Regions from separate parts of the Homo sapiens genome. Here region 1 is linked to region 2. The links come from fine-mapping of genetic effects on gene expression. A gene starts in region 2. The other region holds a variant in brackets. All regions are shown on one strand. Distances are from middle to middle.

What was found. PIP is the estimated chance that this variant, and not a neighbour inherited with it, causes the effect. A credible set is the group of variants that fine-mapping cannot tell apart.
Region 1: its variant is the best candidate, but not a certain one, in a credible set for the expression of DMRTB1 in thyroid (GTEx, PIP 0.63).

The regions. Positions count from the first base shown.
Region 1 is chr1:53,302,773-53,307,772 of GRCh38, forward strand. All of the region lies in intron 2 of LRP8 (LDL receptor related protein 8), which reads right to left. It overlaps LOC105378726 (a long non-coding RNA gene), which reads left to right. Exons shown (of 6, transcript XR_007066090.1): 4 at 115-206. Among named protein-coding and RNA genes, the nearest start is that of LRP8, 23 kb to the right of the region's middle. RefSeq lists an enhancer at 4,995-5,000. The variant C/T (reference allele first, on the strand shown) is at 3,120.
Region 2 is chr1:53,456,529-53,462,044 of GRCh38, forward strand. DMRTB1 (DMRT like family B with proline rich C-terminal 1) reads left to right here and starts at 2,871. Exons shown (of 4, transcript NM_033067.3): 1 at 2,871-3,502; 2 at 4,945-5,117. The coding sequence starts at 2,926.

The sequences.
Region 1 (5,000 bases), 150 kb before region 2:
TCAACCTTGCAGGCTCAAGCCATCCTCACACCCCAGCTTCCCAAGTAGCTGGGACTGCAGGCGTGCACCACCACACCCAGCTAATTTTTTTTTTTTTTTGGATTTTTGTTGTAGAGACAGTTTCATCATGCTGCCCAGGCGGCCTAGAGCCGTACTACAGCAGGTGATCCAGAGTCAGGGCCTGGGAACAACCTGTATGATTATAGGTGAGTGACTTAACCTCTCAGAGCCTCAGCTTCCTCAACAATAAAATGGGGCTAACCACCTCAGAGGGTGGGAATTAAGAGAGGTTGTAATGTTGAAATTCATGGTGAAATTGCACATCACCACAAAAGCAGGTAGAGCTCTTGTCAATCATGCGGCTTATTTCTTACCACCACCACTCCCCCACTGCTCCAGCTTTCCTACAGGGACTTTGGGGAGAGCTGGGTTGCCTCCCCGTTCGAATGGGAGAGGGCCGGGGGCAGACAGGCAAGGGGCATGGCTTAGCTGGAAAAGCATCTGGGTCCAGTGAGGTGGTGGGGAGCAGCCAGTCCTCACAGGGCCTGTGGGAGGCTCTGGTGGAGCCAAGGGGGCTGCAGGCTGAACACACCTGGGCCCCAGGGCCATGTGGCCCAGCCCTTGGATTTCATACATGAGAAAAGGGGCCACAGCAGCCTCGCGCTCCCATGGCAACCTCAGCAAAGCAATTGCACTCCTCCCAAGACCCAGTCAGGAACAAAACTGCCGCTGAAGAGACTGGAGGAATCATAAGATAGTCTTCGAATCACAGAACAGAATCTCCCTGTCTCAGGATCTGAGAATCGTAAAACACACAATTTACAAGTACTTAGGCTCATTCCGTTGAACGTTAGGACCAAGGAGCCACAGAATCTTTCCAGTTTTAAATCACAAATCTTAGACTCACAAACAGAACAAAACCCTAGAAGCTTCTAATCTAATCCAGGCACCAGGAGTGGCAAAGGCCTGCCCCTTTCCCCCAACCCCCACCAGTGCTGGAATCCTCTGTTCCCACCGCTGACATATGGCCATTCGCCCTCTTGAATGCTCTCAGCGACAGGGGACTCAGTCAGCCGTGCTGGCTGGAGGCTGAACACGTTCCTTCCTCTTGAACGGGGAGGGAAATAAGCTCTCAACAGGAGATCCCCACTTTGTACAAATGGATTTTTCACCCCTCCTTGTTCTTTGGCTCGGTCAGAAAGACTCCCAGGGAAGTGGAAAGGAGCCAAGAGCTGCCATGAAATGACTTTACCCAGCAGACAGGCTGGTGATAGGTTTCGGTGGGAAAAAGAAAGGAAAGGGGCGATGAATTCCAACTTGCTGAGCGATAAAGGAAATTAAGGCATAATACCGAGGAGGCAGCAGTTCTATTAACCTGGGTGGAATACCAATTACTCCAGCCTTCTCAACATTGCTCCAAGTGAAGAGAAAACCCCCAAAGAGAGTGTGATTGTGGCCCAGGGCTCATCTGGATTAGACTGTTTGTTTGCCCTGGCACCCTAATGATGGGAATGAGGGAAAATTCCCCGTTTCCTGGGAGACAGCCATGCCAAAGTGGGGGAGGAAAGGCAGGCCCACGCGCAGCCACTGGACTGCTTGGCAAATGCTCAGGGCAGAGGGGGTCCCCAGGCCCACTGCAGAAAGGCTCAGTGAGGGGCCACCAGCAGCCTCCCCTCACCTGGCCCTGTCCAGGACACCTCCTCTGGTCCCATGTTCTGGGAAGGCCAAGCTTCTGCTGACTCCTATGCTACCGGGAAAGTCTCAGGTCTCTGCTGCTGGAAGCCAAAATAATCAAGCAGCAGGCCAACTGTGCGTGAGGGACCCTGCTAGATGCTGGCACGCCCTGCAGTTAGGTAAGACCTTCGGAGGTGGCCATGTCTCCAGGTGTTGGTTCTGGCAGGGCCGGGGTTCAGGGCTCTGGCCGGGACCACCCACCCATCTGAGGCCAGCCCCAGGGCCAGCAGTATGGGGATGGTTCATGGCCACAAGCCCCAGCTCAGCACCTCCAACCAGAGCTGGGCAGAAGGGGACAGACATGGCTGTGGGAGGCAAGAAGAGGAAAGGTGTGGGGTCATGTGCCCAGCAAACCCTCACCGCCCACTGGCATCCTGGCCCAGACCTCAGCCACACCGGCCACTTCTCAGAGCCCCTTACAGAGGGGTGCCCATCAGCCTAGGGGTTCTGAGCCAGCATGGCTCCCCCAGTAAGACAGGTCCCACTACAGCTTGAAGAGGAAGCCACTTTTAAACAGCCTGCCCAGTGAGCACTGCTGGCTGCCTGAAGATGATTCCACTCACCTTGGTTTTTCCTGCAAGTGAACCTTCCTCCCAGAACTAAGGTTTGGAAGATCCCAGTCTGCTGCCTGACATGGCCATTCTCCCACAAAAACAGGTGAAGGAACGCAGGACTCAAATCACGCCTTTGTCCCTTACTAGCTAAGCGACCTCAGGCAGGCTACCTGACCGCTCTGAGCCCATGTTTCCTCATTTAAAAATGTGGTGGTAGATCCTGACTCGGAGGGCAGTTGGTTGCTAGATCACGTCTATCAGTGCCCGACATAAGGGATGGCACACAGAAAATATTCAGTGACCGAAGTTCCTCCTCCCTTTATCCCAGCCGCTGTGGCAGCCCCACCACCAGGCTTTGTACACAGTGAGTCCTTAAGAGGTTTTTGTTGCAATTTTTAAAGGGCATCTGGAGGCCTAGCCTCTGTCATCCTGGGCCACCTGGTTCTTCTGTGACTTGTTTTCTCCATGTATAAAGTAGAAGGCCTGTTCCTTGGAGAAAAAGGTCAAGGCGGGTGGAATTATTACCTGGCAGCCAGCGGGGCTCACAGTGCAGGCTACTTCAGAAGCCTCGTCCCTGGCTAACACCACAATGGTTATAACGCCAAGCGGGGCAGCTGAGACTGGCCCACCTGGACACACAGGCAATGAGTGGAGGTCACAGGAGGTCTGGCCACCAGCTTCCCTGCACCTCCACCCCTGCCCCCACACTAGTCTCTCCTCAGCCCCACAGGGAGCCAGGGGCCTCTAGAATGGCCTCTCCTCCACCCACGTGCATGGGCCCTGGCACAGGAGAGGCGCTGAGGAGGAAGCTGGAAGGCACCCAGCCACCCA[C/T]TCCAGGGTGAACGGTGAGCCTGCCCAAGCATGAGCTCTTATGAGGCCCAGACTGCCAGGGGGCCAGGGTGTCTGAGGCGCACACATTCCTCACTCTCTGGGAGTTGGGAGTGGAGGACCCTCCTCCCCTTCTCTATTCTATTGGGAAGCTTTCCACGACCCCATGTGGGATCAGAGACCTCTTCTGATCCACAGCCTCATCATCCTGTGTTGGTGGCACTCAACCATCTTTCTCTACCAGACTAGCAGCTCGGTGGAGGCAGGCACTGAGGAAGCGTGTGCTGAAGGCATCGCATGCAGGCAATCTGGAAGCCTGGGGCTTTTCCATCTATACAGAATGTACAGCCCAGGACACAAACCCTATTTACCCTCCAGCATTCTGCATACCTAGGAAAAGCAGTAATCATTGAAGCCTTGCTTCAGATCCTCCATTCATGCAGGAAGTGGGGCTCTGGTCTGTTCTAGTGCTGTCTAGCTGGGTGGCACTCCCACATCCTTTTCTCCAGGCATGTGAACTAGCTCTTGTGTCCTCTTTCTCTTGCCAAAGACAGTGGTATGGTACCAAGGAGAACAGAGCCAGGGGCCAGGAGGCCTGGGTTTTGGTCCCAGCTCTACCCCCCGAGCTGCTGCGTGGCTTTGAGTAAGCCACTCCCCCTCTCTGGGCCTCAGCGTCAACACCAGTTGAGGGGTTGGATCCCACTGCTCCCTGGGTCTGTTCCTGCTTTACTTCACTGCCATGAGCCATGTGTCTGGGGCTGGAGTTGGAGGAGAGTGCTGGCACCAGGCAGATGGTTCTGAGGACAGGTTCAGAGTCTGCAAGGCTGGGAGGGCACCTGCCTCTGTCCTGGGTCCCACCTCCTGGCCTGCTCCTCAGGAAACCCTGGGACACATGAACTTGGGCCTCAGCTTTGGCTCTGATCGTATTGTGATGCCATCTCTGGGCCAGGCCCTCATCTGTCTACATCACCTCACCTCATCTCCTGGTTTACGAAGCCCTTTGTATATGTCTCCTCATTTAGTTCTTACAATCACCCCTGAGGTTCAGAGAGGGACAGGATGGGCCCAGGTCACACAGCAGTCAGAGGACTATCAGGCCCAGCATTCTCCAGCAGCCCTGATATCTCCTCCTTGAAACAGGAAGAACACAGGATGTGCAGTGGGAATCCTGACCTTGCCCCCTGAGCAATACTGAGTAGGGGGGGTGGTACTCTCTCAGAACCACTTTGAGCCACCATGAAAATCTAACAGCATAAAGATGCCAAAAGCATAGGTGCCAGCCAGGGCAGCAGCCCGCTGGAACAGAAAGAGCACCACGCAGGGAGCCCCAGAGCCCAGGCTCCAGTTTTGGGTTTTCCCATCTGTCAAATGAGGGCAAGGATGCCTGCCCTGCCTCACCCACTGAAGGCCAGCTGTGCACTTGCCACACTTACCCCGTCCCACCTTCTACACAGCTGTCTGTGCCCACCACCTCAGCCAGGAGGAGTCACGAGCCCCTTCCCTATCTGCACACAGCTCAGCCTGGCTCACTGCACCAAAAAGGCAGGCCTGAGCATGGACCACACACAGAGGTATGTTCAGACAGACGTGCAGACACTCAGGCACATGCACACAGCGCATGTACTTGCAGATGGGCACCCGTGCATACAGCAAGGCACACACCACCCACTTGCACACTCAGGTGTGCGCCACATACTGAACATACTCAGACACGCATGTCATGCTGGACACACACTGCAGCACACAGACCGCATACCCACACATGCACAGTTGGCTTCATATGATGCTCACACACTGCAGACAAATATGCATAGATTTTCTTGCCTCTCCCATGACAGCCAGATGGTGGGATTCTCCCAGAGGGCTGCCATTTAATGCTCTAAT
Region 2 (5,516 bases):
CCTCTGAAGCTATGAAGTGAATATGGAAGCATTTTGTAGTTAACAAGGCTAACGTATGTTAACTCAAATAGCTTGCTTTGAAGAAAATTTTCCTTTAAATTATTAATATTAATGAGAAAGTGAGAGCTTGGGTGGTCAAGCATGAAATATGAATGAGTAGTTTTCGTTTTTAGGCCTTATTATCCGATGTCACCTGATGTTCAAATTTAAATTTGATAATGCAGAAAATAACAATACAATTTGCAGTGTCATGAAACAATGCAGCTTGTGCCCCAGATTTTTCGACAGCAGTACTGAAACTATGATTTTTAAGTGACATTTTCAAAAGACAAGGTCAGTGAAAAACGCTATACATTTTTTATTGGGTAGAGTCAGAAAAAGAGCTTGCCTGTCCTTTAACTATTTTTTTATTTTTTTTTCGACAGGGACTTGCTTTGTCACCCAGGCTGGAGTGCAGTGGCACAAACACGGCTCACTGCAGCCTCGACGTTCTGGGCTCAAGCGATCCTCTTGAGTACAGGCACGCAAGTCACCATCCCTGGCTAATTTTTGTAGAGACATGTTTCGCCATGCTTCCCAGGCTGGTCTGGAACTCCTCAGCTCAAGCTATCCTCCTGCCGCGGCATCCTGAAGTGTTGGGATGATAGGCATGAGCCACTGCAACCGGCCACTAATCATATATATATATGATTCTTCTTGAGACAGAGTCTCGCTCTGTTGCCCAGGTTGGAGTGCAATGGCACGATCTCGGCTCACTGCAACCTCTGCCTCCCGGGTTCAACTGATTCTCCTGCCTCAGCCTCCCGAGTAGCTGGGACTACAGGCGCCCGCCACCATGGCCAGCTAATTTTTGTATTTTTTTTAAGTAGAGACGAGGTTTCACCATGTTAACCAGGCTGGTCTTGAACTTGTGACTTCCGGTGATCCACCTGCCTCAGCCTCCTAAAGTATTAGGATTACAGGCGTGAGCCACTGCACCCGGCCCACTAATCATATTTTTAAAATAAAAACTTAAGTGAGAGGTTGTTAGAGCAAAGCAGAAACAAACCTAGTCCTCCTTAAATGGATGCAGAGCAACCAGTGAAGTCCTAACAAGCCAAGTAACACAGGAAACTTTTTACTACTTTTACTTTCTTATTAAGATGATTTTTTTTAAAGCAGAAAAAGACTTTAAAACCTTTTTTCGCTTTCCAGATCTAATAAGCCCCCCAATGGTAACCATTTCCTATTCCCAGGCAGCTAGTGAGAAACGCAAGGTACAACTACAATCACGGACTCAGGAAAATCAAGGTGGACACCAGGCGTGGGCTTCTCCCATTCTACCAACAGAAAGAGAGAAATTCAAAGAAAGAGCAATGAAAAATGCACAAGTTTTAGCCACATATTAACTGTAACTACCTCCTTAAATGCGACTGATCTAATTAGAAGCTTTTCAGCTTGTTAGTGGCCCATTTTTTCCTTTTTTTGGACAAAGAAGGGAGGAGAGGGGAGGGGAGGGAAATGGAGGCAGTGGGGTGGTGGGGGGGAGGGGCGGGAGAGAGAGACAGAGAGAGAGAGAGAGAGAGAGAGAGAGAGAGAGAGATGCCTCAGGGTGTCACAAATTTGTTTTTAAAAAATGAATTAATGGCCGGACGCGGTGGCTCACGCCCGTAATCCCAGCACATTGGGAGGCCGAGGCCGGTGGATCACCTGAGATCGGGAGTTCAAGACCAGCCTGGCCAACATGGCGAAAACCCCGTCTCTACTAAAAATACAAAAATTAGCTGGGCATGGTGGCGGGCGCCTGTAATCCAAGCTACTCAGGAGGCTGAGGCAGGAGAATCGCTTGAACCTGGGAGGCGGAGGTTGCAGTGAGCCAAGATCCTGCCACTGCACTACAGCCTGGGTGACAAAGCAAGACTCTGTCTCAAAAAAAAAAAAAAAAACAAAAAAAAACAATTAATGCCCTCGGGTAAACTATGACGTTTGTGCTAACTTTTCAGATGTCCCAAGATTTGGGTTGTTTTACAAGGATAACGAAGTTCATGATGAGGTTAAGCAATCACTGAAGCTAGTGCTAGAAATTTTTTTTAATTTAATTTTTTAGAAAGAGGGGTCTTGCAGAATTTTTTATTTAATTTTTTAGAAAGAGGAGTCTCGCTATGTTGCTCAGGTTGGTCTCCAACTACTGGGCTCAAGTGATCCTCACGAGTAGCTAGGGCTACAGGCACAGGACACTATGCCAGGCTTAGTGCTACAATATTCTGTCTATTTTACTTTAAAATATTCTAAGTATGCTCACTTTGGAAGGCATCAACATCCAGAAATGCATTCCTACATCAAGACTCTCAAGAAACGGGAATTACTGTAAGGGCATACCCTTGAGCAACCATCACACTGCACTGAACTCTTGAGAATATTCTGGAATATCCTGGAAGCATCTCTGCAGGGCAGAGAAGTGAACTGCCACAGAAGGAGCAGCTTTGGGGAGAAGAAATACAGTTTGCCTCTTACAGTATTTTTCTACACCGAGAGCTACATTCCTCCCGAGTTTTAAATTTGTGGACCGTTGAATATCACTCCGCCTTTCATAAAGTTACAAATACCTTCCGTCGGTGGCGGGAACAGAGTTTGGAAAATTACATGCCTAAGACTTCAGATAAGCTAAATGACATACATGCAATAGCATCCCATGAAGAATTTATTCAACCCAATCCATTGCATCTAATTACCCAAAGCACAGAAACTCTCCAAACTGTGCACCCCCCAAAAGGAGGGAAAATGCAAGGTTCCTGCTGCAGTTCCCGGGACACACTGCGAGCCGCTTTGTTACAAGTGTATCCAATGTCCCCAGAACGAGGGACTTGTGGGGCGCGGCTCATCCCAGCGCCACTTGCTCTGCAGCTCCCAGAGGTGGTGGTTGTGTTACGAAGGCTGACCCTGCCAATGGCCGACAAAATGGTGCGCACCCCCAAGTGCTCGAGATGCAGGAACCATGGCTTCCTGGTGCCCGTCAAGGGACACGCGGGCAAATGCCGCTGGAAGCAGTGCCTCTGCGAGAAGTGCTACCTGATCTCCGAGCGCCAGAAGATCATGGCCGCGCAGAAGGTGCTCAAGACGCAGGCCGCCGAGGAGGAGCAGGAGGCGGCCCTGTGTGCGCAGGGGCCCAAGCAGGCCTCCGGGGCTGCGGCCGCCGCCCCCGCCCCCGTCCCCGTCCCGGCCGCGAGCCTCCGCCCGCTGTCCCCGGGGACTCCCTCCGGAGACGCCGACCCGGGACCCGAGGGCCGCGCGGCCGCTTGCTTCTTCGAGCAGCCCCCGCGGGGCCGGAACCCCGGCCCGAGAGCCCTCCAGCCGGTTCTGGGCGGCCGCAGCCACGTGGAGCCGAGCGAGCGAGCCGCCGTGGCGATGCCCAGCCTTGCGGGACCCCCTTTTGGGGCGGAGGCCGCAGGCAGTGGCTACCCTGGCCCCCTAGACCTGCGCAGGCCGATGCGGACCGTGCCCGGCCCACTGTTCACCGACTTTGGTAAGTCGTGGCCTTGGTCCCGCGGTCGACTCCCGGAGCTGGCAGCCCAGGCCAGCCCGGATGGGGAGCTGGCATAGGGGTTCGGGGTGGAGAGAAGTTTTTCCACGGGTAACGGACCTTCCGCTTTGAGAAACCCTTCTTCGAACAGGGATTTGGATTGGGTAACTTTTCGCAAAAAGGAAACGAGAAACAGAAAGGAATGGGCGGTTCAGAGGGCTTTTAACATTTAGCTGTAGTTTGTGCCATTCCGGCATGCAAGAACAAAATGGCGTCCAGTCGACTTAGCAGTGCTTCCTCCTCCGGGGGAGGCTTCGAGGAGCCGAGTCCTACTGCTCTTGCGCACCTCTTCCCGCCATTTCCTTGGGCTGGAGGCTCCTCCTCCAGAATAACAGAATTTTCCTGCCGGCACGTTAGCGCAAGGACGCCTGCGCACTCTTCCCTCCCGGTTCGCGGTCGGGAGGCTCCTCCCCTCAGCTCCGCCCTGGCCCAGTGCGCCTGCGCACCTCTTCCCTCCGTTTCCCCACGTGCAGGTGAGGGGAGCCTGCTTCTTTACTCCACACACGAGAACAGTTGGTCAGTAAAGATGTTGCCTTTCTTTTCTCCCTTCACCTTGTACATAAATTACATTGTTCCCTGTGCCTTGGAGCTTTTGGTATTGAAGTAGTTTCAAGTCACATGTACATTTGAAGCTTTAGAAGCCCCGGGGTTTGGTGCGGACGCGTTTTCCTGGTGTCTCCCCCGTGGTGGTGTGGTGGGACGGGCTCAGGCCGAGGCGGGGGCCCGGGTCACGCTGGACAAGCTCCTGCCCTCTGTGTGCCAGGGCACTGGTCCGGAGGCTCCCGCAGGCTCGTCCCGCCCCCCTGACTTTCCAGGAAAATCTAGGTCCCCAGGGAACGTCCCATCTGACAGGGTCACAGGCCTGAAACTGCAGATCTAGGAGAAGCCACCTTTCTTTTTTCCATCTCAACAGACAAGCAGGGCTGAGCCGAACCATGAGCCAGGCATTCGTGATGGAGGACGCGGGTCACATTTCTTGCCCTCAAGGACCTTGTCCTTGTGGGAGGGACAGGGTTGATCAAAGAGTCACACAAATCAGTGTCCAGGGCTTGAGCCATGGCCGGGTTCACTGTGACCCGGAGGAGGAGGAGGAGCTCGGCACTGAGGCCTCAGAGAGGCAGAGTGCGGGCTGACGGTGTGTGGGGCAGCGGGGAGGTCTGGAGGCGGCCCCGGCCCACAGCGGGCTTGATGGCCGTGCTGAGGACTTTCCAAGAGCAGTGGGGCTGGCTGGAGGATGGAGATGCAGTGAGGGCCCAGCGGAAGGAAGTGCGGGGTGGGCTTTCTGTGCTTGGACGGCAGCGCTGATGACCCCGCCGCCCTGGGCCGCCCTGCGGATGCTTTTCCCAGCGGTGTCTAACACTTCCCTCCTTGCTTGCGTTCTTTAGTGCGCCCTCTGAACATCAACCCGGACCGTGCACTGGGCCCTGAGTACCCTGGTGGCTCCAGCATGCACCCCTACTGCCCGTTCCCGCTGGGCTACCTGGACGCCCCTCCTGGCGTCCCCCTGCAGCAGGGCTTCCGGCATGTGTCCCGCAGCCAGTACCAAGGCGGAGGCTTGGTGAGTCCCACCCCTCACTTCTTGCCAGCTTCCTCCACCCAGTCTGCCCCTGCTGCCTTGATGGATCCTCAGTCCCAGGAAGCCAGCTGTCATAAACTGTGCCCACGCCATGCCAGCCCCCGAGTGCTGGTGGAGGACTAGGCACTGCCCAGGCACAGTGTGTGTGTCTCTGGGAGCACACGTGTGGACCAGTCTGCACCACTCGGCTTGGGCTATGGCCTGTGCTTTTCAGGGCAGTGGGCTGAAAGGCTCTGAGCGTTCAGGATGACCCCTTCCTTGACTGATGCTGATGCTAGAAGGGCCCTTCATTTTGCTGGACTCCAGAAAGGGCATATCACCTTCCTGGGACCACAAAATTTAGGGCAGAGCCAGGACCAGAGGTAGGCTCCCTGCCCACAG